4 separate regions of the Homo sapiens genome follow, and all the other regions are reported to be linked to region 1. Evidence: microRNA targets listed by miRTarBase, many of them from high-throughput screens and not tested one by one. Region 1 holds a microRNA gene; each other region holds the end of a gene's coding sequence.
The links. The annotated mature microRNA hsa-miR-7153-3p reads CACCAUGGACGGUUUACC and lies in region 1 at 5,220-5,237, shown strand. An mRNA with a match to its seed (bases 2 to 7 or 8) in the 3' UTR can be bound and repressed. Matches are read on the target gene's strand: a 7mer-m8 pairs with bases 2 to 8, a 7mer-A1 pairs with bases 2 to 7 and ends in A, and an 8mer does both.

Region 1 (7,748 bases):
TTTGCCCTTCTCTGAGCACATGGTGAGCCAGACTATTCATGGGAAACAATACTTTGGATAAGGTTTGCCAATTAAATCTCTCTCCACATTTCAATTACTTTCTCTAAGCAAGGTAGACATATGAAATAACTTTTCATTAAATATTGCATCTTGGAATCCTCAATAGGAAGGCAATGAAAAGCTAACCCAGCCCCATCGGATACTGAGCTCTTCCTTGCAATAGTCCTGTCTGTGACTGTCTAGCTTCTGTCTGAACACCTATGAATGACAGAGAACTCTTCCCCCAGGAAGATAATTCCATATGTGTGCTTCTGTCAGGTTGGCTGCATATTGAACCAAAATGTATCTTCTCGTGTTCCTGCTCTCCTACTCTTCAGTTCTAATTCTTTCCTTTAGGGCCACATGGAAGTAAATCCTCATTTTAATCTGGGTTCTCCAGAAATCAAAGCCTGATGCAGAAGGAAGGAGGGGTGGGGATAAAGAAGAGAGATAGGGAGAGAGCTCATATCAGGGAGCTTGGGACTGTGGCTCTGAGAAGCCACACCAACCTCGTTCCGGGGATGCCTCCTCTGCCATGGAAAAAGGGGGATTCCTGGACTGGCTCTCCTCTCCAGTTGGGATGCTAACTCCCCTACCCTTGGACTCATGCACCCCAGGGGTGAGATCACCTGTGGTGTCAACCAGTGACCTCTCCAGCATTGGGGGCAAGAGGCATGTGGCCTCTTTCACACTGTGCCTGCATCAGGCCCATCAGAGCATGCGTTGAGCCTATTTTTTATAGTTCAAACCAGGGCACTTTGAGAGTGAACCGGGGTGGGGGGGCGTCGCAATAATTATGCCAGGGCAACAAGGGTGACTGGGAGTGCTTCCTGGGCAGACTGGGACTTGCAACCATCCTCCTGAGCCCATGAAGAGCTGGACTAAGGATTCATGAGGCCTTGAGGCTCTGAAGAGGTGCATGAGAAGGTGTGATGCAACTCTTGCTCACACAATAGCTGGAGCTGAGGGTTCATTAACTCATTCGGCAAATATTTACTGGCTTGAGAGTGTTAGGACCTGCTCTAGGGTGGAGGGAAGCAATGGTGAGCCCAGCCATGTACAGGCCCAGCCATGTACAAATCACGGAGCTGGTCATTTAGAAAGGCAGATGTCACTTTAAACAAGTAATTACTTAATTACAATTGGGTAGTTGCAATCACACAGTTGGAGAAATGTTATGAATACATAAGAGGATACAAACTTTTCTAAAGATGTTGGCCATCAGAAAAATGTCCCTAAGAGAGAAACATTCAAGTTAAGACTCTAAGGTACGAAAAGAATTGGTCTGGTTGGATTGGATAGAGGAGGAGGGAAGGAGAGATGGAGAAGGGAATTAGGAGGGCAGGAAAGAAGAGGGTTAGAGATACAGCAAACCCATGAAAGAAACCTCCCAGGTCAAAGAAAGCTTGGCACCCAAGAATAAAAAATACAGCCCTGTGTCTGGGGCATGTGTCCCAGAGGAGGACTGGCTGGAGGTGAGACTGCATGGGGCCTGACACCACGCTGAAGATCACGGTTTCAGTGACTTAAAAGTTTGTGGAAGTAATGTTCTCCCAACTAGCTGCTGTTTGGAGCACGGATGGGGGAAAGAAAGCCTGTAGGATGCTCTTGGGAGTGTCAGGCCATGGAAATGATAGTTGCTTTGGTTAGGTTACAGGGAGTAGAGACGGAGAAAAGTGGATGAGGTTGAAATATATTTAGGACACAGAATGGGTAGGACTCAATGCCATGTTGGATGCAAGTGCGGAGGGACAAAGGGATCAAGGATGAGTTTGTCCTCAGCACAAATGACTTTCCCATGGAAGAACCATTTTGTGAAGTGGGATGAGCTTGTGTTGGGGGGAGGCTGACTCTGCACTGGTTTTGGGACCTTCTGAGGTTGAGGCAATGTGAGACCTTCACACGGGGATGTGCAGTTGGGAGTTGATCTGGAGGGCTGGAATTCAGAGCAGAGATTGGGTCGAGAGACGGAAATTTGGCATTGTGAACATGTTTGAAGCCATGGGAGTGGGTGAGACCTTTGAAGAGAGATCACAGAGTGAGAACTGAAGTGAGTTGAAAGCAGGATTTTGATAAATTCCAATGTTCAAACTAGGCTTGGAGAAGGAGCAGGAGCTCTGAAAGGAAACTCAGAAAATGTGGCCAGAGGGTCAGAGGGTAAACAGAGAGTGGTTCCTCAGGAAGCCGGGGAGTGGGTGTTTCAAGAAGCTTAGCGGTGTGCAAGGCTTCCAAGAGCCATGAAGAAACTGAGCAAGATGGCAGGCTTATCATCACGCAAGCCTCTGCTGGCCTAAAGGAGAGTGTTTTAGTGGCTGGATGTCCGACTGGGGGGTGCTGAGGAGTGGGGCTGAGGAAGAGTGGACGGACGGATGGCCAGATGAATCAAAACAAAGCTCCGGTGGGAAGAGAGAGCAAGGAGCTGGAGGGGACCAAATCCTGGGGGGGGGGCTCCCAGGGGCAAAGGAGAGCAGGCACGGATGCCAATGGAGAGGCATTTTGTGAGAAAAGGCTGAGGTTTTATGAGAAAGAGGGAAAAAGGGAGTGGAGTGCCTGAGGAGGCTGGGTGGGCCAGGGCTACTCGGAAGCATCTAGAGAAGTGCTGCCTTTTGATAGGAAGAAAGGGCTCTCGTTTTAGTTTTAAAAAAAAAAAGATGCAGTGAGTGGCATTGCTGCGCACAGGCTCTGGTGAAATGGCGTCAGGATGCGTCAGAATTCCTCACCGGCGTCTTCAGATTTTCTCTGAAGTATTTGAGATAAGATCATCTTCCATAGGGTGGCAGCAACAGTGGGAGGTTTGAGGGAAATGGAAACTGCAAGAAATTGTTACTGTGTGGAGGTGCTGGGGAAGCAGGCATTCGGAGACCTTTATTAGGTTTCATGATATGAAGATGACACAGGAGAGCTCATCAGCTCCAAAGTATTTACAATCGAATTTCCTAAAGAAGTGGACTGGCTGCACAGATTGTGGTCGCTGTCCTTCATGCTTGTGCTGGTATTTAGAGCACAGTGTCTCTGTCTTACCCCCCAAAGCAGCTCTGGACTCAATGTCTAATGAGCATCTGAGATGGCACCCCACCTTTTTAGTTTTGCTGTTTAAAAATAGTTTCACAAATGACTTTCCTCTGCTAGGGAGCAAATGTCAAAACACTTTCTGAGAACTCCCATGACCTGACTGTTGAAGTGACAAAGCCTATATCCCTTAGAACAAAGTAAATTCTGGTGCTTCTTTTTTGGTGTCTGTTTTGTATTGTATCTATTTTTTAGAGATGGGGTCTTTCCATGTTGCCCAGGCTAGAGTGCAGGGGGGGCATGATCATAGCTCATTTTAGCCTCCAACTCCTGCACTCAAGTGATCCTCGCACCTCAGCCTCCCGAGTAGTTGGGCCTACAGGTGGTGCCACCACACCAAGCTCTGTCTGTTGATTGGGATGCAGCTAGGGTGGGGTGAGTGGTAGAGGTAGATTCATTGGCACAGGAAGGCCCCCACACACATGAGACCAGAGGAACTGGCTCCATCCCTGTGTCTGACTTGCCTTTGTTGTAGAAGCAATGGTCCAGCTCCCAGGTCTAGAGGCTTGAGTTTGTTAAAATGTGCTGGACATCCAGACAAATCAGACACTTTTTATGGAAAGCTATATAAAGGACACCATCCTTCCTAACAATACCACAGAGATTCAAGGGATTCAAAAATCGAGAATGAAATCCGTTCCAAAGCACGATACTGATGGCCTAATTTTGGCTTATGTCCTGCTGAGTTACCCCCAGTAGTGGGCCTGAGCCCCTTGGGGGAGGGACAAAGTAAAAGGTGGGTTGGTTGGGGAGAAGTGTTGACCTGGAAGTTGTAGCTGAACTTCAGTAAACTCTTTTATGAGGGGTATAAGCTTTGCACCCTGATTACGTACTAGAAAGATAATTGCTATTCAAACTTAAAAATGGCTACATGTACTATCTTGGTTTCCAGTGCTCCACAATCTGGTTGGAGTCCCATCTATTCTTTCATGCTTAGTTGGAATCTTCTTCCCTAGCTATATTGATTAAATAGGGATGAATCACGCCCTTAACCACGCTCAGAGCACTCCTGAGATAGTATCTTCTTTCCCCTTTGTTATCAGTTCCTCAAAGACAGGAGGATGTCTCTTATGTGTTTATATTCCCAGGGTTTCATACTTAGTACTTTTTTGATGTGCTTACCTCTTTGAAGTTTTAGGGAACTTGCTCAATAATAAAGACTAGACATTGAATTTGCTGTCGAGATGTTCAAAGCTGAGGCTTTTTTTTTTCTTTTGCTGTGATTCCAGAAAATCCTGTCTTCCATCTGTGTTTGGGAGGCAACTGAGCGGTCTCGCCTGGCAGTTTCCTGTTGGGCTTGTTTCTTCAGCGGACCCAGGTCTGGTGTTCCTTCTCTGTCCCTCACCACGACCTCTCTACTATTGAACTTATAAAAGGGGAGATAAGGAGTGTAAACCATTTAGAAAACATATGTTTGATATTTATAGCTACAGAAGATATTTAAGGTGTGATTGATCACACGTGAATTTCCTTCCAAACAACAAACCGAGCTGGGAAAACACTCAGTGGTGTAGACCGCCCCCTGCTGGCCTCGTTCCGAACCCCAGAGCGCGCCGGTGCCATCCCGTCGCGTTGCCGCAGGGAGGGGAGGAGTACCGTGCCCACACCTAGGAATGTATCTTCGTGGAAACCCCATGGCACAGGGTGTTGTGTCCTTTGGAGCCCCTCCTCGCAGCTGTGAGCTATTTACTAATAGCTATCACGTGGGGAGGTTGTGTTGCTTTAAAAATGGAATGATATTTCTGCTTTACAGTTTTCCTAAATCTGGGCATCTAGTGAAGCTGTCCTTCGGGAATTCACGCTCCAGCTGGAAGCCAAAGGGGGAGGGCTGTGTTCTCTGAGGGAGTTGGAGGTCACCCCGTGCTGGCGAAAGGTCTGGGAGTGGAGCTCAGGAGGTCTGCCTTTGACTCCGGCCTCCTTCTCCAAACTGGGGGTTTCCTTGTCAATGGAGTGGTTTGACTAGGTGATTTCTAAGGACCCTTCAGCTGTGTCATGGTGGGCAGCACCGTCCTGCCTTCCTGGAGCTTACATTCCAGCTAGCGTGTTTACTCGAGCTCCTGTGCTCGGTGTGGTGAGAACTGACAAATGTGGTAGGTGGTCGAAGTCATCCACACCATGGACGGTTTACCACTTCTGTGACCGGACCCTGAAGTCGGGATTTGCTGGGAAGCACACAGGTGCACCCATCTCCTTCCAGGTCACTGCCCCAGTCAATTCGTGCTGGCTGAGGCCGTCTGCGCATCCAGCACTCCTTGGTAATTCTTGTATGTCTTCATTCCGCTTTTCCTGCATTAAGCATGGAAGCTCTTTCCAAACTTCTTGGTACCCGGGTCCTTTGATCCTCCTGCCCCTGCTGCTTACTCTCTTAGCAGAAAACCCTACCTCCCTCCTGCAGAAAAGACGCTGTCTGAATTGCTAGCCTTCCCCTCACTACTGGCTGGCTCTCATCAGTGTTGAATTTACCTTTGCCCCAACCAAAAAGCCAAAATACTGGATGCTGCATTTGCCACCTGCATTCCATATCTCATATCTTTCCTTCCCTTCACAGTCAAATTTCTTGAAAGCAGTGTCTACATCCACTGTCTTCCTTTCTTGCCTCGACTTGTTCCCGAAGCCACTGCAGGCTGGCTGACTTCCTCATCTCCACTCCACCGAAACGGCATCATTTCAAGGTCCCCCAGTACCTGCATGTTGCTGAAGCCAGTGGGCACCTAACACTTTTTGTTTGGGGCACTAGACCATTCCCCATGCTCTCGATCAATGCTCCTGGTTTCCCCCTTCATTTCAGCTGCTTATTTCCTGTGGTAAGGGTCCTGCTTGCTTTTTGTCTTCCTTTGCGTTCTTTCCCAGATGTTTTTCGGTTTTGCTCCCCATCCTGCCACCACGGGAGCAGAAGAGGCAGGTGCAGGGATGCAGAAGCACAGCAGGGAGGTGCTTTAGACGGGTTGGCTAGAAGGCCTGTGGAAGAGGGCATTTGGCCTTGCTCATTTCAGAATTCCTGCGAAGAGAGCACAGGGGCAAGGGCCTTCCCTAGATTACAAATGGAAATGAAGCACAAGCTTGAGTGCCAGAGCAGCATCAGCTGCTGTGTGGCGTGGGAAGGGACCCCGACGTCCTAGGGATGCAGGGTAGATCTGAGCTACTTGCTGGGGAGCTTGCCCTAGAAGTCTGCCAAGGTGGGGTTGGAGGGGCCCTGCAGATGAGAGCGGCCAGGTGAGCTGCCTGGACTGGGGGCAGGTGGGATTGCAATGTAACAAGTGGACGCCAAGAGGCCCCACCGCACAGCAGGAGCTGAGGTGGGGTTCGCCAGCAGTGGGAGACAGCCAGGCTCTTTGGGAGGGATGCCCGTACTAAAGGGAAAGTCACATTTCTCAGCTGGATTCCATTTCACTCTCACTTAAGTGGAACCAGCCAATGTGCACCCAGGACAGGATCCAAGGTGGGGACCCATGGAAGGAGCACAGGCCTCCAGCGCTGCGAAGGCATGGGCACCACTCCAGGCCCACATCCTCTTGGAGAAGAGCAAGAGAGTGGAAGAAGCAGGAAACGTTATTTACCCGCCTCAGAAGTCACCCAAGAGCTCGTGAAATTGGGCAGGGACTGTGGTAACATAAAGTTTCAAGTTCAAAGTTTATGTGTCCTTCCTTACTCCCGGTGGAGTGGGCTCATGAGAATATCCAAGTGTTTATAAAGGATAAAGAACCCACATTTTCTTTGCACATCTGGCTGGAAAGTGAGAAATGTATAAATTTTTGAAGAAACTGAAGGGACTGTCATACATCTGTAATAATGATACACGTAAAGTCTGTGGAATAACATGAAAAATCTGTAAGATGTACCATTAAGCGAGCAAAGAATAAAACTTGTGTGTTTGATTTTAACCGTGTAAAATCAAATACTTTTGAGTAAAACCTGGAAAAAACGTGAGGAAAATAAAACCAACTATCACTGTGGTAGGAGTGTAGGTGGATTTTTAAAAAATCCTCTCGTCTTATTTATTAAGAATAAAATAAGGTTGTTAATTCATTTTTTTGATTGTGGTATACTTTAAATTTCTTTCCTGGTGGTGCAGTGTACCCCACTTTTTTTTTCTTTCACTGGAACTAATGTTTCTGTTTGGAAAAGCACACATAGGCCAGGTGCACTTTGGGAGGCTGAGGCGGGTGGATCAGCTGAGGTCAGGAGTTCAAGGGGCCCTCCAGCCTGGCCAACATGTTGAAACCCCAACTGTAGTAAAAATACAAAAAGTTAGCTGGACGTGGTGGTGTGCACCTGTAATTCCAGCTACTTGGGAGACTGAGGCAGGAGAATCACTCGAACCTGGGGGGCGGTGGTTGCAGTGAGCCGACATTGCGTCACTGCATACCAGCCTGGGTGACAGAGCAAGACTCTGTCAAAAAAAAAAAAAAAAAAAAAAAAAGAAAAAAAAGGAAAACCACACACAATAAAATTTTAATAACTATTCCTTTCTTAAAAATCATGAAAATGCCATGTCATTTCCTTTTACTGAAAAAAATTACATAAAATTTAAGTATAAAATATGTCATAGAATAGTAAATAAAATATGATCCCATTTATGTAAAACAATGGGTTGTTTTAAATCCCATGTGCTACCTCTGCTTTCATTCCTCAATATTCTC
Region 2 (7,748 bases), not on the chromosome of region 1:
TGCTGAACACTGGTTTAGTCTTCTGACAAAAGCCTCCTAATGTAGCCGCTTCAGACGAGAGCAGGCTTTTTTCTCTGAAGTACCCAGCCAACATCGTCTGGCGGTGTCTGACTCTGTGGTGTTGGCGGGGACACGAACCAAGCACAGCTTGATTTTTATGGTTTAATGTAAGAGATGGAGCCTCCACCACTGTCGCTTCAGAAGATTGTTGTTTTGACGTCTCAGCCACACAAATGGAGTGAAACTGCCATTATAGGAGATAAGCAGGGGAGACTGAGGTGTCAGGATTTAGGACCCTGCCTTCAAAGCAGATCCACCTGTTGCCCCCACAGTTTGCGAGTGGCTCCATTGAACACAAAGGGACTGATGGTTGAATGCAGGCGGGCTGCCGGGTGCCCCCATCTGAGGACGTCTAACTGTGTCCCTTCTTTGTCTCCCGTCCCTCCCCACTGTCCTCGCTCTGCAGGAATGGCATCACCAGCTGCCGGATGCGGACTGAGAGTGAGCCATCTTGTGGCTCCCCAGTGGTCAGCGGAGACCCCAAGGAGGATCACAACTACAGCAGTGCCAAGTCCTCCAACGCCCGGAGCACCTCGCCCACCAGCGACTCCATCTCCTCCTCCTCCTCCTCAGCCGACGACCACTATGAGTTTGCCACCAAGGGGAGCCAGGAGGGCAGCGAGGGCAGCGAGGGGAGCTTCCGGAGCCACGAGAGCCCCAGCGACACGGAAGAGGACGACAGGAAGCACAGCCAGAAGGAGCCCAAGGATTCTCTGGGGGACAGCGGGTACGCATCCCAGCACAAGAAGCGCCAGCACTTCGCCAAGGCCAGGAAGGTCCCCAGCGACACACTGCCCCTCAAAAAGAGACGCACCGAAAAGCCCCCCGAGAGCGATGATGAGGAGATGAAAGAAGCGGCAGGGTCCCTCCTGCACTTAGCAGGGATCCGGTCCTGTTTGAATAACATCACCAATCGGACGGCAAAGGGGCAGAAAGAGCAAAAGGAAACCACAAAAAATTAAAAACAAGTCACTGATTTGTTTTGAACTTACGACCATTTGGTTTCAGCATGTCAGGAGATTTCTAATGATTTGTGGCAATATCAGCAATTTTTTTTCTTTTTTCTTGTTTTTGGTTTGGTTTTCTTTCTTTTCTTTTCCTTTTATTTTGTTTTAATTTGCCCCCTCTTCTTTGTTTTGGACCCTTAAGAATTTTATTTTTAAAGGAGATTGAAGCCATAGAACTCATATTGACACTCAGCTGTTTTACAAAAGCTTTTCATTATCTGAAGACAAAACCGAAAAAGCCAAAATTACCATTGCTTCCTCCAGCTTGTCAGAAACCTGTGGCTGAATCCGCAGGGATGTCAACGTCAATATCACAGGAACACACATTCGGCACCTAGAAGGCACGTGGGCAAAGTAATCATCGTTCAGGCCCAACCCTTAGGTTTAAAAAGTCAGGTTGTCCATCCCATTGGGTTCACTGAGTGAAGGCACATAAAGCAATTGAGGAGGAGGAGGAACCCCTCGTCCCCCTAGGAGCAGACCCAAGCTTGTGGCACCAGGCATCTGATGGTGCCAGGAAAGCCACTGGAATTGTCACACGGCGAGCACAGAGGGCCGGCCACCAGTCCTCGATGCTTCTGAACCCTGAAGCCCGATGACATCTTACGAGGTGGACGTTGGACTGTTCATGCGCATCGGGTGTCAGTGACTCATGGAGAAGAAATGGGGTAAATTTTTAGTGATGTTGCTAATCATTGAATTCTGTTCTCTATTAAATTAAGAAAATGTTCCAAAAGCCATAAGCCTGAAGATTGGCCCTGTGCACGCACGCACACACACACACACACACACACACACACACACACACACACGAAGGAGAGAGAGAGAAAACTGATGGGGAAAACAAGCTGTGTCTTCTTAACTGCCCAAGTGAAAAGCAACCAAGTCCAGGAAATTACAATAGCTGTTAAGGAAAGGAAATAATGGTACAGATCTTTTTCTGTCTATCAAAACTATTTGATCCAAGTGAAAAAAAAAAAAAAACTAGAAAGCTACGGAACCTGCCATTAGTATTGTGGTGTATTTTTAAGATTAAAGGTACACTGATGGACAAAAAAAAAAAGTAAAACATGGCAAAAAATAAAATAACTCCTATACTGCCCTCAAAATGGAGTTTGCAATTAATATCAGGATTTATCTTTGCAAAAATCAGTGATTTCCACATTCAGCCAGTATAGCCAGCAGAAATTTCTGATCCACAATGCATGGATTCCTTTGAAGAAAAAAAAGAAAAAGAGAAAAAAATCACAAAAACAAACTTTTTTTATTCAAAAGTAACAAAGTTCTTGTAAGGTAAATAATGTATTTAGCATGAAGCATGAATTATTTTCATATAAATATAGAAAATAGAGAAAAGGCTATGCCTGTAATTTTTAAGCCCTTAGGCTTAGAGTTTCTTTTGGTTTTCTTCTTTTTTCTTTCCTTTTCTTTGCTTTCTTTTTTTCCTTTTTGTTTTTGTTTTTGTTTTTTGTTTTTGTTTTTTTTTCGGGTTATTTTGTTTTGGTTTTTTGAAGCAGGTGTTTAAGGTTTAACCTTCTTCAGGGACAAATTCTGACTGTTGGGGAACTTACTCTGCAATATAAAAATATCTTCATGCTCTGGTAGGGCTTGGATGGTTGAACTCTGTACTGCCTTGTGTGCACTTCAGCCCCGACCCCCTCTGATTCTCTGTTGAAAAGTGTGTCCTTTCTCTCTGTCTGTACATGTTTAACATGACGCAATAATTTGAGGGCAAACTTAGTAGTGAGTGTGTATGATAGAATCAAGAGAATTATGGGACGCTTACTTGAGAAAATCATTACCATGATTTGGTTCTAGGAAAAAGGCAGTGAATAATTATGCAAATTAGCCAGAAGAAGGGGAACCGTGCTAATGGGCCTTATTGGGTGAGGGGACGAGATGGGGTTCATGTGAAGGAGGAAGCGATGCCGAGGTAGGAAAGGCCAGCCCCAGACATCCTATCGCCACAATGCCATGTCGCAATAGGAAGCAGGGGCCGGCCATCGCTACCTTCAGCACACTGACCAACCTGGAATTAAGACCACCTAGATTGCGAGAGCTGAATTTAGAAACCAGACAACGTCATGCAGCCCAGAAACTCCTGTTGTTACCTTTGCCTAAGAAATTTTCTTTAATGGCGGGGGCGGGGGGCGGGGGTACAAAGAGAAATCTCTAAAAGAATATGATCTTCCATCCAAGTGGAGGGAAACTTTAAAACAAAAACACCCAGTACTGTGGCTCAGGATATGATGCGTGAGGAGAGGGAGGGAACAGAGATGACCTTAACTTTTAAAAAAGGGACTGCTGTGGGCCAAAGCCAAGCCCATCTGCCAGGACGAGGTAATGTCAGAGCTCCATCAGCCCGGACAGTGGGAACTAACTGGTGCATTCCCCACACTTACCTTCCGGTGGGTTGCTGATGAGAGAACCTGAAAAAACCTACACCTCTACAGCAGGTCGAATTCATGACCTGAAGCTGAATACTTCCAGCATATTTATTCAGGGTGTAGGTGGGAATAAAGTATCTTCGCAGTGCTCTGTTCCCTCCGTCTCCCCAGACATCTGACACCCTAAAAGCCATCCACAGCTATGGAACCTGAGCGACACCTTGATTTGTGTTGTCACCTGACCAAGCCTAAAGACCTCCAGCTCAGTCCCCCACCTTCATCCCACCCCACAGATGATAAAATTCAGACCTCTCTCCTGAAAGGCAGAGGTTCAACATTCAGGACTGTTTCTGGCCGAGGACTTCTTCCAATTAAAACCCCCACCGTGGGCTGTCTCCCCTCATTTCATTTTTCTAAAGGGGCAGAGGCCTCTTTTAGAAAATAATAAAATGCAATGTGTGTGATTTACTTTTCTGATCTCTTTGAGAAATAGAGAAATATAAAAGTGTGTTCTTAACTCCAGAACCACTCTTTTTGCATAAATACCTCATCGGGCAGCTTTCTAAGTGTGATTTTCCTGAGTCTCCCTTCGTTGGATCTGCCGGAAGACTTGTCGGGGAACCTTTAGTGAGGGTACTTCTTCCTATTTTTCTTCTGTTTTTGGAGGCATACACATTATGCATAACCAAAACAATGGCTCAATTGTGTTTAACTTTGTATTTTGATTGTTGAGAACAAAAACAAAAAGTATCAATGTGTATGTGGCTGTTTGTAGTGAATTTATTGGAGAATGAGGTTGTCCGTGTCCTTAACAAGCCAAGGGGCAGGAGGCACCCTCTCTTATCCCCTCCTCCAAGAGCAGTAGAGAATTTAAGCACAAGCCTATTTGTGAAAGAATATTTTGCTTAAGTGTCATTCACTTTAGTCTTGGAATTCCTTCCCAAACGTCAGGTGTTCTTTTAGCTTCCAAACTAGCATATGTATCCATTAGTCTGACAGATCGCCTGAACACCATTAAGAGGTGTGGCGTTTTTGCTTTCATTTCTCCTGCTGGGAGAAGTGGCGGTTCATGTGTCATTCCAGTATCTCACATACTCACACGGGGCAGGGGGGAGGGGGAAACGGGGAACTATAGCAATATTTAAAGATGCTTTGGAAACCAACCGTGAACACATCAACACCACGACGTCTACGATTACTTGCTATTGGCCCTCGGATACATTTAAGAGAAAGAGACAGTCACTCTTTTTTTTCTTAAATGATATACATATAAACAGTTATTTTTATCCTATTATAATTGTCTTTTGTCTTTATCTAGTACTATGTGGAAAGGGTTTGCATCATAGATTTTTCCCAGCCTTATAATATACCATAAGCTCCTACTTCCCTGCCCCTCCCTAATCAGTATTCTTTCAAGAGTTCTTTGGTGAAGCCATCTATCTGAAACTAAAATGAACCAAACCCATATTTCACTGGTGGTTGGAGAAAACCATGGCCAAAACGATTGTGGCAGGTCTCAATCTTGGGAGTTTTTAAGAAGGAATGTGCCAGAGGCCGATTCCCAAGAACAGAGTTTTCTTTTGTTTTGCAGAGGCATTCAATGTGTCTAGTGCTTGCTGGCCACAGCAGTTACTACCACAGAGCCTTCTGGGAGGGGCCGTTGTGTTGAAGGAGGCTCCTGCCTGAGGGACAGCATCAGGCAGTGGGCTCTGTAGAGTGAGAACCAGGTGGAGGCCTTCTGTGCCCAGCTCAGAGTTCTGCACCACGCCAGGACTGCCCAGGCCAAGGGCTACTGACGCAAGTTCCACTCATTCCACTCTGTGGGGGGCGCCTTGGGCCTCTCCTGGAAGGGCTCTTGGAGAAGGAATTGGAGTTACGTACAAGTGACCTAAATGGGAAGCTTTTCTAGATGAGATTGGATTAAATTCCATGTGATTTCTCTTTCCCTTTAATCCAGGTTGGGACTCGTTTCTTTCTGGTGGATCACAGCTGCCCAGATGTTGCAATTGATTTTTATGTTTCTGTAGAGAAGTATTTTTCTTTCATCTTCAGGATTTTTTTTGCCACCAAAAGAAAACATTGGAACTCTGTGTTTCCTCTTGATTGTGACTTCCCAGTGTTGACAGTTAAGTCCTTAGTGTCGTAGGTCCCAGCCCACCAATACTATATCAAACACTGTTATGCACATAATGCAGCACTGTGATCTAATTTAAATAATACTTTTTTATTATTTATACTACTATATATAATATACATCAACACTTTTGCTATATAACCTAAGTGATAACCCTCTTTTAGTTACCTGCCAAACTCTGGACTTGGTTTATATTGCAGTTAACACAGTTACAAAGCTGTAATGGTGTCTTTTTTTCCTTTGTAACGGAATGTGTAAATCAAAGTATATACATTGTGTGGTGTTCCTGTTTCTGGAGTTTCATGAGGATTTACACATGGCATTCAGTGTTCTGTATAGATCTGCCTACCTTTGTGAATTCATCTGTTAACCCCTCTTCCTTTGAGAGAGCACCGGCGATGGTGGTTAACTCCTTGTGTTTTCTCTCTCTCCTACTGGTTATTCTTGAATTAAGCACAGACTCGTCAGCTCGGTTGCTTTATCATGAATAATGTGTGTGACCTTGCAGTTCTTCCACAGTTCAGCAAACAAGTGCTAGCTTCACTGACCAAAAATTAAGGAAGGAAAACACAGTTTTTAAAACGATCCATCTTTTAACAGCCGAAACCGATGTGTCTATGGTGCTGCACCTTGCTGTTGTACTTCTGAAATCAGACGTGTGTGAACGATCATTTCTGACTTAACCGTGAGATGCTCACGAGTACCCTTCCTGTTGTTTTGTTAGCATTGAAATCGAGACTATTTATTTGGAATATATACAACAGTGTTTTTCCACTGTATTTCATTTGCAAAAGTTGAGAACTGCTTTCTCTACCTTTTGCAAAATAATTGATATTCCATATTGGATTCTCAAAGACTTCGATATGGTGAACCTATTAAACCTAGAAATTGTATTCATCCTTTCATGACTGTGGCCTGAGTTCCCCAGCCCCTCTCCTCCTTTTTTTTAGATGAGATTTAGCACACTCTCAGTTATTTAAACATGCAACATTTCTTGAGTATGTATGTTGAGGCCATCTGAGCTCATAGCTGATTCAGTAACCAGTTTCATGCTGTGTCATTCACACTCACTACTTAATACTGCCATGGTGAAAATGTGGAGGAAAAATGTATCCATGTGTGTCTGGGAAGCATATACACTTGTACATTTTTTAATACTCTGATTCTGTAACATTTCTGAGTTTTGTTTTGTTTTACAGAAAAAAAAAAAAAGTGATAAAGCAATCAGAAGACCAAGAGGTTTACTATTGATGCTTAGGGTCGTCTGACCTTGGCTGGCCAATAGACCTACACGGCCAAATTAATTTACGAGAGTAATAATTTTTCAAAAGCCAATTTTTTTTCTGTATTTTCTGTATGAAACTGCCAATATCATGAATAGAAAGGGAGAACCATAAAGGAGAAAGAACGTGATGTTCTGTTATGTTCATGTAAACCTAAAGAAACAGTGTGGAGGCAGGCGCGATCAGCCGAACTCTAGGGACTTGGTGTTGCTTGGAAGGCATCCATACCTGCATTTTGCATTCTTCGTATGTAATCATATTGCCAAAGACAAACTATTTCATCATTTATTGTAAATAACACTTTTCCCCAGACCTACCATAAAGTTTCTGTGATGTATTGTCTTCCAGTTGCAATAAAAATTACTGAGTTGCATCAATTGAAGAAAAACACCACGTAGTGTTATGTGTGCTGCGCCTCCCTGTGCAGATGCTGGTCCACAACGTCATTTCTGTTCCTTACCTGCGGTCAGGCGTGTGTGCAGTTTTTGCAGTCTGGTTTCGGGGTTCTCAGCTGCATTTATTGTGCCCATCCTCACACGTGCGTAGGCTTGGGTGGGCATCACACACTGCTCTGCAAACACAAATGCACATTCGGAAGCTGGGCTTACCCGGGATCTCAAGAGAATTCCAGCTTTGGTGTAGCTGGTGGCTGGCCAGCCTCCCATCATGAGCCTTAAGACTTGTGGTTTAGACAGAGCTTCCCTTTCATTTGGAAGTTGTCAAACAATAAACTGCAATTGTACTTTAGTACTGGAGCCTGCCAGCCTATCCCAGATCCTGAGGGTTTCTTGTAATGACATTCCTAGCCCTAAGACCTTCATCTGCCAGGGTTTATTACGTCATCACTCAAGTGCCCACCCCAGACCCTCGCACACAC
Region 3 (7,748 bases), not on the chromosome of region 1:
GAAAATGACCACTAGCTGTGGTCAAACTGTTTTCAGTGACTTACATGACTTCAGAAAGATGACAGATTAATGTCAGGGAGAGTCAAAAGTACTATGATAAAAGCACTGAGGGGATCATGAAGAGAGACGAGAGAGGACCAATGGGGTAAAGCAGAGCCTTGGTAAAATTATGGTACTTTAAGGTGTCCAACTGTAAGTAAGCTAAGTGTTTAGATATTAGGATGCTTGCTTATTTTGTTTCAATGTTTAATTTATACTGAGGCAATGCTTTTTTGTCTATGCAAACATTCATAGTTTTTCTGAGTGCTCTTTGACATGAATATACCCTCACATACACCTTTTTTTTTAAATTTAACAGAAATTGTGCCATCCTTCATCAACAAAGATACAGAAACCATAAATATGATGTCAGAATTTGTTGCTAATTTGCCACAGGAGCTGAAGTTAACCCTGTCTGAGATGCAGCCAGCATTACCACAGCTACAACAACATGTACCTGTATTAAAAGATTCCAGTCTTCTCTTTGAAGAATTTAAGAAACTTATTCGCAATAGACAAAGTGAAGCCGCAGACAGCAGTCCTTCAGAATTAAAATACTTAGGCTTGGATACTCATTCTCGAAAAAAGAGACAACTCTACAGTGCATTGGCTAATAAATGTTGCCATGTTGGTTGTACCAAAAGATCTCTTGCTAGATTTTGCTGAGATGAAGCTAATTGTGCACATCTCGTATAATATTCACACATATTCTTAATGACATTTCACTGATGCTTCTATCAGGTCCCATCAATTCTTAGAATATCTAAGAATCTTTGTTAGATATTAGGTCCCATCAATTCTTAGAATATCTAAACATCTTTGTTGATGTTTAGATTTTTTTATTTGATGTGTAAGAAAATGTTCTTTGTGTGATTAAATGACACATTTTTTTGCTGAAAAGCCTTTTTGTCTTTTTATTAACAGCATGATTATGTTGTGTTATTCTTTTTAATGCTGTTAACTTAAAATTACAATAAAACCTCTACCGCTTTAACCATACGTAGTAACAATACAGTTGTTACAATACCTAACACCATATAGTAGTAACAATACCTAACACCAGTTACATGAAATGGACCAAAATGTTTTATTGATATTAACTCTTAGATTGGATATAGATAAAGCCATAAAACTTGACCTTTCCTAATAGATTACAAAAGGTTTTTGTGTCATATTGAAATACTCATTGCAAACAATCGGATTGGACACTAAACCAATGTAATTTAGTTAAGACCATATAAACTCAAACGCTTTTTTTTCCTTTTTAATTTCCTTTTTTTCTAGTATAGTCTGAAGGGAACTCAAGTACTTTTCAAGCTAGGGTTCTGTTCTCAGTTCCAGTGTCTAAGAAACTTAAAAGTAAATTATTTTTTAAGGATAAAAAGGAATAGACATAATATAGAACAGAACAAACAAGTCCATATCATATATTACAGAAGAAATAGTATAATGAAGGAACATAATTTATGTTCACTTCTTTAGAATTTGCAAACTATTTCTGTAAGCAAAATTACTGAAATAGTATGAACACTTGTTAGAAAAGTAAACTGACGTAGTTATCAACTTAGTATTTTACTGGTTCTGTCTATTTTTTTTCTTTTTTAAAAATTATACTTTAAGTTCTTGGTTACATGTGCAGAACGTGCAGGTTTGTTACATAGATATACATGTTCCATGGTGGTTTGCTTCACCCATCAACCCATCACCTACAGTAGGTATTTCTCCAATGCTATCCCTCCCCTAGCCCCCCACCCCCAAACAGGCCACGGTGTGTGATATTCCCCTCCCTGTGTCCATGTGTTCTCATTGTTCAACTCCCATTTATGAGTGAGAACATGTGGTGTTTGGTTTTCTGATCTTGTGATAGTTTGCTGAGAATGATGGTTTCCAGCTTCATCCATGACCCTGCAAAGGACATAAACTCATCCTTTTTTATGGCTGCATAGTATTCCATGGTGTATATGTGCCACGTTTTCTTAATCCAGTCTATCATTGATGGACATTTGGGTTGGTTCCAAGTCTTTGCTATTGTGAATAGTGACGCAATAAACACATGTGCAAATGTCTTTATTGTAGAATGATTTATAATCCTTTGGGCATATGCCCAGTAATGGGATTGCTGGGTCAAATGGTATTTCTAGTTCTAGATCCTGGAGGAATCACCACACTGTCTTCCACAGTGGTTGAACTAATTTACACTCCCACCAACAGTGTAAAAGCATTCCTACTTATCCACAGCCTCTCCAGCATCAGTTGTTTCCTGACATTTTAATGATCGCCATTCTAACTGGCATGAGATGGTATCTCATTGTGGTTTTGATTTGCATTTCTCTAATGACCTGTGATGATGAGTATTTTTTCATGTCTGTTGGCTGCATAAATGTCTTCTTTTGAGAAGTATCTGTTCATATCCTTTGCCCACTTTTTGATGGGGTTTTTTTTTTTGTGAAGTTGTTTAAGTTCTTGGTAGATTCTGGATATTAGGCCTTTGTCAGATGGACAGATTGCAAAAATTTTCTCCCATTCTGTATGTTGCCTGTTCACTCTGATGATAGTTTCATTTGCTGTCCAGAAGCTCTTTAGTTTAATGTGATCCCTTTTGTCAATTTTAGCTTTTGTTGCCATTGCTTTTGGTGTTTCAGTCATGAAGTCTTTGCCCATGCATATGTCCTGAATGGAATTGCCCAGGTTTTCTTCTAGGATTTTTATGGCCCTAGGTCTTACGTTTAAGTCTTTAATCCGTCTTGAGTTGATTTTTGTATAAGGTAAGGAAGGGGTCCAGTTTCAGTTTTCTCCATATGGCTAGCCAGTTTTCCAAACACCATTTATTAAATAGGGAATTCTTTCCCCATTGCTTGTTTTTGTCAGGTTTGTTGAAGATCAGATGGTTCTAGATGTGTGGTTTATTTCTGAGGCCTCCATTCTGTTCCATTCATCTATATATCTGTTTTGGTACCAGTACCATGTTGTTTTGGTTATTGTAGCCTTGTAGTATAGTTTGAAGTCAGATAGTGCGATGCCTCCAGTTTTGTCCTTGTTGCCCAGGATTGTCTTGGCTATGCGGGCTCTTTTTTGGTTCCATATGAAGTTTAAAGTAGTTTTTTCCAATTCTGTGAAGAAAGTCAATGGTAGCTTGATGGGGATAGCATTGAATGTATAAATTTCTTTGGGCAATATGGCCATTGTCATGATATTGATTCTTTGTATCCACGAGCATGGAATGCTTTTCCATTTGTTTGTATCCTCTCTTATATCCTTGAGCAGTGGTTTGTAGTTCTCTTTGAACAGGTACTTCACCTCCCTTGTAAGTTGTATTCCTAGGTATTTTATTTTCTTAGTAGCAATTGTGAATGGGAGTTTACTCATGATTTGGCTCTCTGTTTGTCTGTTATTGGTGTATACGAATGCTTGTGATTTTTGCACATTGATTTTGTATCCTGAGACGTTGCTGAAGTTGCTTATCAGCTTAAGGGGTTTTTGGGCTGAAACAATGGGGTTTTCTAAATATACAGTCACGTCATCTGCCAACAGAGACAATTTGACTTCCTCTCTTCCTGTTCGAATACCTGTACTGCTTTCTCTTGCCTGATTGCCCTGGCCAGAACTTCCAGTACTGTGTTAAATAGGAGTGATGAGTGAAGGCATCCTTGTCTTGTGCCAGTTTTCAAAGGGAATGCTTCCAGCTCTTGCCAATTCAGTATGATATTGGCTGTGGGTTTGTCATAAATAGCTCCTATTATTTTGAGATATGTTCTATCAATACCTGTTTATTGAGTTTTTAGCATGAAGTGGTGTTGAATTCTATTGAAGGCCTTTTCTGCATCTATTGAGATAATCGTGTGGTTTTTGTCATTGGTTCTGTTTATGTGATGGATTATGTTTATTGATTTGTGTATGTTGAACCAGCCTTGCATCCCAGGTATGAAGCCAACTTGGTCATGGTGGATAAGCTTTTTGATGTGCTGCTGGATTCAGTTTGCCAGTATTTTATTGAGGATTTTCTCATTGATGTTCATTAGGGATATTGGCCTGCAATTTCCTTTTTTTGTTGTATCTCTGCCAGGTTTTGGTATCAGGATGATGCTGTCTTCATAAAATGAGTTAGGGAGGATTCTTTCTTTTTCTATTGTTTGGAATAGTTTCAGAAGGAATGGTACCAGCTCCTCTTTGTACCTCTGCTAGAATTTGGCTGTGAATCCATCTGGTCCTGGACTTCTTTTGGTTGGTAAGCTATTAATTACTGCCTCAATTTCTGACCTTGTTATTGGTTTATTCAGGGGTTCAACTTCTTTCTGGCTTAGACTTGGGAGGGTGTTTGTGTCCAGTTATTTATCCATTTCTTCTAGATTTTCTAGTTTATTTGTGTGGAAGTGTTTATAGTATTCTCTGATGGTAGTTTGTATTTCTGTGAGATCAGTGGTGATATCCCCTATGTCATTTTTTATTGTGTCTATTTGATTCTTCTCTATTTCTTCTTTATTAGTCTGGCTAGCGGTCTATCTATTTTGTTGAGTTTTTTCAAAAAACCAGCTCCTGGATTCATTGATTTTTTGAAGGGTGTTTCATGTCTCTATCTCCTTCAGTTCTGCTCTGATGTTAGTTATTTCATGTCTTCTGCTAGCTTTTGAATTTGTTTGCTGTTGCTTCTCTAGTTCTTTTATTTTTAATATTAGGATATCAATTTTAGATCTTTCCTGCTTTCTCTTGTGGGCATTTAGTGCTATAAATTTCCCTCTACACACTGCTTTAAATGTGTCCCAGAGAGTCTGTTACTTTGTGTCTTCATTCTCATTGGTTTCAAAGAACATTTTTATTTCTGCCTTCATTTCATTATTTACTCAGTAGTCATTCAGGAGCAGATTGTTCAGTTTTTTTGTAATTGTGTGGTTTTGAGTGAGTTTCTTAATCCTGAGTTCTAATTTGATTGCACTGTGGTCTGAGAGACTGTTTGTTATGATTTCCATTCTTTTCTATTGGCTGAGGAGTGTTTTACTTCCAATTATGTGGTCAATTTTAGAATAACTGCGATGAGGTGCTGAGAAGAATGTGTATTCTTTTGATTTGGGGTGCAGAGTTCTGTAGATGTCTATTAGGTCCGCTTGGTCCAGAGCTGAGTTCAAGTCCTGAATATCCTTGTTAATTTTCTGTCTTGTTGGTCTGTCTAATATTGACAGTGGGGTGTTAAAGTCTCCCACTATTATTGTGTGGGAGTCTAAGTCTCTTTGCGGGTCTCTAAAAACTTGCTTTATGAATCTGGGTTCTTCTGTATTGGATACATATATATTTAGGATAGTTAGCTCTTCTTGGTGAATTGATCCCTTTACCATTATGCAATGCCCTTCTTTGTCTCTTTTGATCTTTGTTGGTTTAAAGTCTGTTTTATCAGAGATTAGGATTGCAACTCCTGCTTTTTTTTTTTTTTTGCTTTCCATTTGCTTGGTAAATATTCCTCCATCCCTTTATTTTGAGCCTATGTGTGTCTTTGCACGTCAGATGGGTCTCCTGAAGACAGCACACTGATGGGTCTTGACTCTTTATCCAATTTGCCAGTCTGTGTCTTTTAATTGGGGCATTTAGCCCATTTACATTTAAGATTAATATTGTTATGTGTGAATTTGATCCTGTCATTATGATGCTAGCTGGTTGTTTTGCCTGTTAGTTGATGCAGTTTCTTCATAGCATCGATGTTCTTTATAATTTGTCATGTTTTTGCAGTGGCTGGTACCAGTTGTTCCTTTCCATGTTTAGTGCTGCCTTCAGGAATTCTTGTAAGGCAGGTCTGGTGGTGACAAAATCCCTCAGCATCTGCTTGTCTGTAAAGGATTTTATTTCTCCCTCCTTTATGAAGCTTAGTTTGGCTGGATATGAAATTATGGTTTGAAAATTCTTTTCTTTGAGAACGTCGAATATTGGTCCCTACTCTTTACTGGCTTGTAGGGTTTCTGCAGAGAGATCCACTGTTAGTCTGATGGGTCTCCCTTTGTGGGTAACCTGACCTTTCTCTCTGGCTGCCCCAATATTTCTCTCTGGCTGCCCTTAACATTTTTTCCTTCATTTCAACCTAGGTGAATCTGACAGTTATGTGTCTTGGGGTTGCTCTTCTCAAGGAGTATTTTGTGGTGGTCTCTGTATTTCCTGAATTTGAATGTTGGCCTGTCTTGCTAGGTTGGGGAAGTTCTGGATAATATCCTGAGATGTGTTTTCCAACTTGGTTCCATTCTCCCCTTCACTTTTAGGTACACCAATCAGACGTAGATTTTGTCTTTTCACATAGTCCCATATTTCTTGAAGACTTTGTTCATTCCTTTTTATTCTTTTTTCTCTAATCTTGTCTTCTCTCTTTATTTCAATGAGTTAATCTTCAATTACTGATATCCTTTCTTCCATTTGATCAATTCAGCTATTGGTACTTGTGTATTCTTCACAAAGTTCTCGTGCTGTGTTTTTCAGCTTCATCAGGTCATTTATGTTCTTCTCTACATTGATTATTCCAGTTAGCAATTCAACTAACCTTTATTCAAGGCTCTTAGCTTCCTTGTATTGAGTTAGAACATGCTCCTTTAGCTTGGAGGAGTTTGTTATTACCCACCTTCTGAAGCCTACTTCTATCAGTTTGTCAAACTCATTCTCCATCCAGTTTTGTTCCTTGCTGGCAAGGAGTTGTGATCCTTTGGATGAGGAGAGGCATTCTGGTTTTTGGAATTTTCAGCCTTTTGCACTGGTTTTTCCCCATCTTTGTGGATTTATCTACCTTTGGTCTTTGATATTAGCGACCTTCAGATGGGGTCTTTGAGTGGGTGTGCTAATCCTTTCTGTTTATTTCTTTTCCTTCTAACAGTCAGGCCCCCTCTGCTGCCAGTCTGCTGGAGTTTGCTGGAGGTCCACTCCCAGTCCTGTTTGCCTGGGTATCACCAGCAGAGACTGCAGAGCAGCAAAGATTACTGCCTGTTCTTTCCTCTGGAAGTTTCGACCCAGAGGGGCACCTCCCAGATGCCAGCCAGAGGTCTCCTGTATGAGATGTCTGTTGGCCCCTATTGGGAGGTGTGTCCCAGTCAGTATACATAGGGGTCAGGGACCCACTTGAGGAGGCAGTCTGACCCTTAGCAGAGCTTGAACGCTGTGCTGGGAAGTCCACTGCTCTCTTCAGAGCCATCAGGCAGGGATGTTTAAGTATGCTATAAGCCCCTGACTGGGGCTGCTGCCTGTTTTACAGAGATGCCCTGTCCAGAGAGGAGGAATCTGGCAGTCTGGCCATAGCAGCCTTGCTGAGCTGCAGTGGGGTCTGCCCAATTTGAACTTCCCAGTGGCTTTGTTTACACTGTGACCATAAAGCTGCCTACTCAAGCCTCAACAATGGTGGATCCCCCTCCCCCAACCAAGCTCGAATGTCCCAGGTGGATCTCAGATTGCTGCTGTGTTGGCAGCGAGAATTTCAAGCCAGTGGATCTTAGTTTCCTGGGCTCTGTGTAGGTGGGACCCGCCAAGCCAGATCACTTGGCTCCCGGCTTCAGCACCCCTTTCCAGGGGAGTGAACAGTTCTGTCTCGCTGGCATTCCAGGCACCACTGGGGTATGGGGAAAAAAAAAAAAGATCTCCTGCAGCTAGTTTGATGTCTGCCCAATTGGCCGCCCAGTTTTGTGCTTGAAACCCAGGGCCCTGGTTGGGTAGGCACCAGAGGGGATCTCCTGGCTTGCAGGTTGCAAAGACCA
Region 4 (7,748 bases), not on the chromosome of region 1:
ATATCAGTTGCTCAATAAAATTTGTCCCATGAATTTTTAAAAAATCATAATAAAACAGTCTAATATAGTGGATAAATCTATCCACTTTGGAATCAGGTTCAAATCTCAGTTCTGCAACTTACTAGCTTTGCAACTTGGGTCAAGCAGTGTATCTCTCCAAGTCTCAGTTCCCCCATACATAATAATATCTACTTCAAAAGATTAGATGAGAAGAGTAAAGTATGTGACGTGTTTGTGGGTGTGTGTATATAGATATAGCATGTATGGGATATAGTAATCTAATATTTCTATTATTCCTATAACAATATATTTTTTATTTTTTTGTTTTGTAGATGCGGCCATCATGGTCTCTTGCTGTGCTATTTCTTGGTCAACTGTTGATTATCAAGTAGCTTTAAGAAAATCCTTGCCTGACAAAAAGCTTCTTAATGGATTATGTCCCAAAATCACATATCTCTTTTACAAGTTGTTTACATTATTATCGTGGATGCTGAGTGTTGTACTTCTACTATTCTTAAATGTTAAGATTGCTTTATTTCTGTTGTTATTTCTTTGGTTGTTAGGTATAATATGGGCATTTAAAAACAACACCCAGTTTTGTACTTGTATAAGTATGGAATTCTTATATAGGATTGTTGTTGGATTCATTCTTATCTTTACATTTTTTAATATTAAGGGACAGAATACCAAGTGTCCAATGTCTTGTTATTATATTGTTAGGGTACTGGGCACTTTGGGGATATTGACTGTATTCTGGGTTTGCCCCCTCACTATTTTTAATCCAGACTATTTTATACCTATCAGTATAACTATAGTTCTTACTCTTCTTCTTGGAATTCTTTTTCTTATTGTTTATTATGGGAGTTTTCACCCAAACAGAAGTGCAGAAACAAAATGTGATGAAATTGATGGAAAACCAGTTCTAAGAGAATGTAGAATGAGATATTTCCTAATGGAATAAGCTATTCATTTATGATATATATTTTCTTATATTTTGTTTCATTGGTTAGTAAAGAAAATGTGTGTTATGTGGGTGTGTTGTCTCTTATTTTTGCCACCTTTAATTTGAAATTAGTTCAGTGAAATAGGAGATACATAGTAGTATTTTATTTTTAAAATTAATTTCTCATTTGGTTTTGAAGATCTTGAGTACTCAGATATCTTTCTACTGCCTGGTAGAGCTGCCATCTTGAGCCTGAAATATAAGAAATGGTCTGGTTTTCATAATGAGAAGGCTGGAATTGAGCTTCCCTCCCATTTTCCTTGTTCCTGAACTAATACTACTGTACCTGTTATGGAGGACTGCAAAGGGAAGAGAAAAGCAGAACACTGTATTATTTTTTCCTTTATTGTCTTCAGTGCATATATTTGCAGTTGGGGACAGGTTGAGTAGAGGAAAAGGGAAAGAAGGGAAAGCAGAAAACAAATTTTTAGCATCTGCTGTGCTTTCATCCATGAAATCTCCAATTCAGTAAGTGCAAAAGAGAATTGGTGTGCATCTGAGAGGTCTGACATTTCATTATTTACTTATTTCCTAGCTTTTCTGAATTAATGCACTCTTAACATATAATTATATTAATCCTATTTGTGCTAGAATAGTTGTATCTAAATCATATTTTAAAATTATTTTTATTTTTAAAAAATTATGGTAAAAACATATAAAATTTACCATCTTAATCACTTTGAGTGTACAGTTCATCAGTGTTAACTGTATTCACCTTGTGCAACAGATCTCAAGGACTTTTTCACCTTGTAAAACTAAGATTCTCTATTTATTGAACAAATCCCCATTTCCTCCTTCCCCAAGTCTCTCTCAACTGAAATTATAATTTTTTGTTTCTATGAGTTTGAATACTTTAGATACCTTGTTGCCATGGTTTGAATGTGCCCCCCAGATTTCATGTGTGTGAAACTTAATCTCCAAATTTGTATGTTGATGGCATTTGGAAGTGGTGGGGACTTTGTTTATTTATTTATTTTTAATTTTTTAATTTTATATTATTATTATTATTATTATACTTTAAGGTTTAGGGTACATGTGCACAATGTGCAGGTTAGTTACATATGTATACATGTGCCATGCTGGTGTGCTGCACCCATTAACTCGTCATTTATCATTAGGTATATCTCCTAAAGCTATCCCTCCCCCCTCCCCCCACCCCACAACAGTCCCCAGAGTGTGATGATCCCCTTCCTGTGTCCATGTGTTCTCATTGTTCAGTTCCCACCTATGAGTGAGAATATGCAGTGTTTGGTTTTTTGTTCTTGCGATAGTTTACTGAGAATGATGATTTCCAGCTTCATCCATGTCCCTACAAAGGACATGAACTCATCATTTTTTATGGCTGCATAGTATTCCATGGTGTATATGTGCCACATTTTCTTAATCCAGTCTATTGTTGTTGGACATTTGGGTTGGTTCCAAGTCTTTGCTATTGTGAATAGTGCTGCAATAAACATACGTGTGCATGTGTCTTTATAGCAGCATGATTTATAATCCTTTGGGTATATACCCAGTAATGGGATGGCTGGGTCAAATGGTATTTCTAGTTCTAGATCCCTGAGGAATCACCACACTGACTTCCACAATAGTTGAACGAGTTTACAGTCCCAGCAACAGTGTAAAAGTGTTCCTATTTCTCCACATCCTCTCCAGCACCTGTTGTTTCCTGACTTTTTAATGATTGCCATTCTAACTGGTGTGAGATGGTATCTCATTGTGGTTTTGATTTGCATTTCTCTGATGGCCAGTGATGGTGAGCATTTTTTCATGTGTTTTTTGGTTGCATAAATAAATGTCTTCTTTTGAGAAGTGTCTGTTCATGTCCTTCGCCCACTTTTTGATGGGGTTGTTTGTTTTTTCTTGTAAATTTGTTTGAGTTCATTGTAGATTCTGGATATTAGCCCTTTGTCAGATGAGTAGGTTGCGAACATTTTCTCCCATTTTGTAGGTTGCCTGTTCACTCTGATGGTAATTTCTTTTGCTGTGCAGAAGCTCTTTATTTTAATTAGATCCCATTTGTCAATTTTGGCTTTTGTTGCCATTGCTTTTGGTGTTTTAGACATGAATTCTGTGCCCATGCCTATGTCCTGAATGGTAATGCCTAGGTTTTCTTCTAGGGATTTTATGGTTTTAGGTCTAACATTTAAGTCTTTAATCCATCTTGAATTAACTTTTGTATAAGGTGTAAGGAAGGGATCCAGTTTCAGCTTTCTACATATGGCTAGCCAGTTTTCCCAGCACCATTTATTAAATAGGGAATCCTTTCCCCATTGCTTGTTTTTGTCAGGTTTGTCAAAGATCAGATAGTTGTAGATATGCGGCGTTATTTCTGAGGGCTCTGTTCTGTTCCATTGATCTATATCTCTGTTTTGGTACCAGTACCATGCTGTTTTGGTTACTGTAGCCTTGTAGTATAGTTTGAAGTCAGGTAGCGTGATGCCTCCAGCTTTGTTCTTTTGGCTTAGGATTGACTCGGCGATGCGGGCTCTTTTTTGGTTCCATATGAACTTTAAAGTAGTTTTTTCCAATTCTGTGAAGAAAGTCATTGGTAGCTTTATGGGGATGACATTGAATCTATAAATTACCTTCGGCAGTATGGCCATTTTCATGATATTGATTCTTCCTATCCATGAGCATGGAATGTTCTTCCATTTGTTTGTATCCTCTTTTATTTCACTGAGCAGTGGTTTGTAGTTCTCCTTGAAGAGGTCCTTCACATCCCTTGTAAGTTGGATTCCTAAGTATTTTATTCTCTTTGAAGCAATTGTGAATGGGAGTTCACTCATGATTTGGCTCTCTGTTTGTCTGTTATTGGTGTATAAGAATGCTTGTGATTTTTGTACATTGATTTTGTATCCTGAGACTTTGCCGAAGTTGCTTATCAGCTTAAGGAGATTTTGGGCTGAGACAATGGGGTTTTCTAGATATACAATCATGTCATCTGCAAACAGGGACAATTTGACTTCCTCTTTTCCTGATTGAATACCCTTTATTTCCTTCTCCTGCCTAATTGCCCTGGCCAGAACTTCCAACACTATGTTGAATAGGAGTGGTGAGAGAGGGCATCCCTGTCTTGTGCCAGTTTTCAAAGGGAATGCTTCCAGTTTTTGCCCATTCAGTATGATATTGGCTGTGGGTTTGTCATAGATAGCTCTTATTATTTTGAGATACATCCCATCAATACCTAATTTATTGAGAGTTTTTAGCATGAAGCGTTGTTGAATTTTGTCAAAGGCCTTTTCTGCATCTATTGAGATAATCATGTGGTTTTTGTCTTTGGTTCTGTTTATATGCTGGATTACATTTCTTGATTTGCATATATTGAACCAGCCTTGCATCCCAGGGATGAAGCCCACTTGATCATGGTGGATAAGCTTTTTGATGTGCTGCTGGATTCGGTTTGCCAGTATTTTATTGAGGATTTTTGCATCAATGTTCATCAAGGATATTGGTCTAAAATTCTCTTTTTTGGTTGTGTCTCTGCCAGGCTTTGGTATCCGGATGATGCTGGCCTCATAAAATGAGTTAGGGAGGATTCCCTCTTTTTCTATTGAGTGGAATAGTTTCAGAAGGAATGGTACCAGTTCCTCCTTGTACCTCTGGTAGAATTCGGCTGTGAATCCATCTGGTCCTGGACTCTTTTTGGTTGGTAAGCTATTGATTATTGCCACAATTTCAGATCCTGTTATTGGTCTATTCAGAGATTCAACTTCTTCCTGGGTTAGTGTTGGGAGGGTGTATGTGTCAAGGAATTTATCCATTTCTTCTAGATTTTCTAGTTTATTTGTGTAGAGGTGTTTATAGTATTCTCTGATGGTAGTTTGTATTTCTGTGGGATCGGTGGTGATGTCCCCTTTATCATTTTTTATTGTGTCTATTTGATTCTTTTCTCTTTTCTTCTTTATTAGTCTTGCTAGCGGTCTATCAATTTTGTTGATCCTTTCAAAAAATCAGCTCCTGGATTCATTAATTTTTTGAAGGGTTTTTTGTGTCTCTATTTCCTTCAGTTCTGGTCTGATTTTAGTTATTTCTTGCCTTCTGCTACCTTTTGAATGTGTTTGCCCTTGCTTTTCTAGTTCTTTTAATTGTGATGTTAGGGTGTCAATTTTTGATCTTTCCTGCTTTCTCTTGTGGGCATTTAGTGCTATAAATTTCCCTCTATACACTGCCTTGAATGTGTCCCAGAGATTCTGGTATGTTGTGTCTTTGTTCTCGTTGGTTTCAAAGAACATCTTTATTTCTGCCTTCATTTCGTTATGTACCCAGTAGTCATTCAGGAGCAGGTTGTTCAGTTTCCGTGTAGTTGAGTGGTTTTGAGTGAGTTTCTTAATCCTGAGTTCTAGTTTGATTGCACTGTGGTCTGAGAGACAGTTTGTTATAATTTCTGGTGTTTTACATTTGCTGAGGAGAGCTTTACTTCCAAGTATGTGGTCAATTTTGGAATAGGTGTGGTGTGGTACTGAAAGAAATGTATATTCTGTTGATTTGGGGTGGAGAGTTCTGTAGATGTCTATTAGGTCCGCTTGGTGCAGAGCTGAGTTCAATTCCTGGGTATCCTTGTTAACTTTCTGTCTTGTTGATCTGTCTAATGTTGACAATGAGGTGTTAGTCTCCCATTATTATTGTGTGGGAATCTAAGTCTGTTTGTAGGTCACTCAGGACTTGCTTTATGAATCTGGGTGCTCCTGTATTGGGTGTATATATATTTAGGATAGTGAGCTCTTCTTGTTGAATTGATCCCTTTACCATTAAGTAATGGCCTTCTTTGTCTCTTTTGATGTTTGTTGGTTTAAAGTCTCTTTTATCAGAGACTATGATTGCAATCCCTGCCTTTTTTGTTTTCCATTTGCTTGGTACATCTTCCTCCATCCTTTTATTTTGAGCCTATGTGTGTCTCTGCACATGAGATGGGTTTCCTGAATACAGCACACTGATGGGTCTTGACTCTTTATCCAATTTGCCAGTCTGTGTCTTTTAACTGGAGCATTTAGTCCATTTACATTTAAAGTTAATATTGTTATGTGCGAATTTGATCCTGTCATTATGATGTTAGCTGGTTATTTTGCTCATTAGTTGATGCAGTTTCTTCCTAGCCTCGATGGTCTTTACAATTTGGCATGATTTTGCAGTGGCTGGTACCGGTTGTTCCTTTCCATGTTTAGTGCTTCCTTCAGGAGCTCTTTTAGGGCAAGCTTGGTGGTGACAAAATCTCTCAGCATTTGCTTGTCTGTAAAGTATTTTATTTCTCCTTCACTTATTAAGCTTAGTTTGTCTGGATATGAAATTCTGGGTTGAAAATTCTTTTCTTTCAGAATGTTGAATATTGGCCCCCACTCTCTTCTGGCTTGTAGAGTTTCTGCCGAGAGATCCGCCGTTGGTCTGATGGGCTTCCCTTTGTGGGTAACCCAACCTTTCTCTCTGGCTGCCCTTAACATTTTTTCCTTCATTTCAACTTTGGTGAATCTGACAATTATGTGTCTTGGAGTTGCTCTTCTTGAGGAGTATCTTTGTGGCGTTCTCTGTATTTCCTGTATGTGAATGTTGGCCTGCCTTGGTAGACTGGGGAAGTTCTCCTGGATAATATCCTGCAGAGTGTTTTCCAACTTGGTTCCATTCTGCCCGTCACTTTCAGGTACAGCAATCAGATGTAGATTTGGTCTTTTCACATAGTCCCATATTTCTTGGAGGCTTTGTTCGTTTCTTTTTATTCTTTTTTCTCTAAACTTCCCTTCTCGCTTCATTTCATTCATTTCATCTTCCATCACTGATACCCTTTCTTCCAGTTGATCGCATTGGCTCCTGAGTCTTCTGCATTCTTCACGTAGTTCTCGAGCCTTGGTTTTCAGCTCCATCAGCTCCTTTAAGCACTTCTCTGTATTGGTTATTCTAGTTATACATTTGTCTAAATTTTTTTCAAAGTTTTTAACTTCTTTGCCTTTGGTTTGAATTTCCTCCTGTAGCTCGGAGTAGTTTGATCATCTGAAGCCTTCTTCTCTCAACTCGTCAAAGTCATTCTCTGTCCAGCTTTGTTCTGTTGCTGGTGAGGAACTGCGTTCCTTTGGAGGAGAGGTGCTCTGCTTTTTAGAGTTTCCAGTTTTTCTGCTCTGTTTTTTTCCCCATCTTTGTGGTTTTATCTACTTTTGGTCTTTGATGATGGTGATGTACAGATGGGTTTTTGGTGTGGATGTCCTTTCTGTTTGTTAGTTTTCCTTCTGACAGACAGGACCCTCAGCTGCAGGTCTGTTGGAGTTTGCTAGAGGTCCACTCCAGACCCTGTTTGCCTGTGTTCTAGCAGCGGTGGCTGCAGAACAGTGGATTTTCGTGAACCACGAATGCTGCTGTCTGATCGTTCCTCTGAAAGTTTTGTCTCAGAGGAGTACCTGGCCGTGTGAGGTGTCAGTCTGCCCCTCCTGGGGGTTGCCTCCCAGTTAGGCTGCTCGGGGTCAGGGGTCAGGGACCCACTTGAGGAGGCAGTCTGCCCGTTCTGAGATCTCCAGCTGCGGGCTGGGAGAACCACTGCTCTCTTCAAAAGCTGTCAGACAGGGACATTGAAGTCTGCAGAGGTTACTGCTGTCTTTTTGTTTGTCTGTGCCCTGCCCCCAGAGGTGGAGCCTACAGAGGCAGGCAGGCCTCCTTGAGCTGTGGTGGGTTCCACCCAGTTCGAGCATCTGGGCTGCTTTGTTTACCTAAGCAAGCCTGGGCAATGGTGGGTGTAGGTGGTGGGGACTTTGGGCAGTATTTAAGA

Region 2: miRTarBase lists FOXN3 as a target of hsa-miR-7153-3p. Seed matches in the 3' UTR shown: 7mer-m8 at 6,672-6,678.
Region 3: miRTarBase lists RLN2 as a target of hsa-miR-7153-3p. The part of its 3' UTR that is shown has no 7-base or 8-base seed match.
Region 4: the mRNA of XKR9 is a reported target of hsa-miR-7153-3p. Seed matches in the 3' UTR shown: 7mer-m8 at 1,872-1,878 and 7mer-m8 at 2,358-2,364.

The regions. Positions count from the first base shown.
Region 1 is chr18:11,652,374-11,660,121 of GRCh38, reverse strand. MIR7153 (microRNA 7153) reads left to right here and starts at 5,181; the gene lies at 5,181-5,237. RefSeq lists a cis regulatory region at 2,286 and an enhancer at 2,202-2,371.
Region 2 is chr14:89,155,688-89,163,435 of GRCh38, reverse strand. It overlaps FOXN3 (forkhead box N3), which reads left to right. Exons shown (of 6, transcript NM_005197.4): 6 at 467-7,259. The coding sequence ends at 1,022. Among named protein-coding and RNA genes, the nearest start is that of TRA-AGC15-1, 180 kb to the right of the region's middle.
Region 3 is chr9:5,293,055-5,300,802 of GRCh38, reverse strand. It overlaps RLN2 (relaxin 2), which reads left to right. Exons shown (of 2, transcript NM_134441.3): 2 at 359-939. The coding sequence ends at 705. Among named protein-coding and RNA genes, the nearest start is that of RLN2, 7.8 kb to the left of the region's middle. RefSeq lists an enhancer at 7,007-7,549.
Region 4 is chr8:70,733,464-70,741,211 of GRCh38, forward strand. XKR9 (XK related 9) reads left to right here. Exons shown (of 5, transcript NM_001011720.2): 5 at 333-2,479. The coding sequence ends at 961. Among named protein-coding and RNA genes, the nearest start is that of XKR9, 68 kb to the left of the region's middle.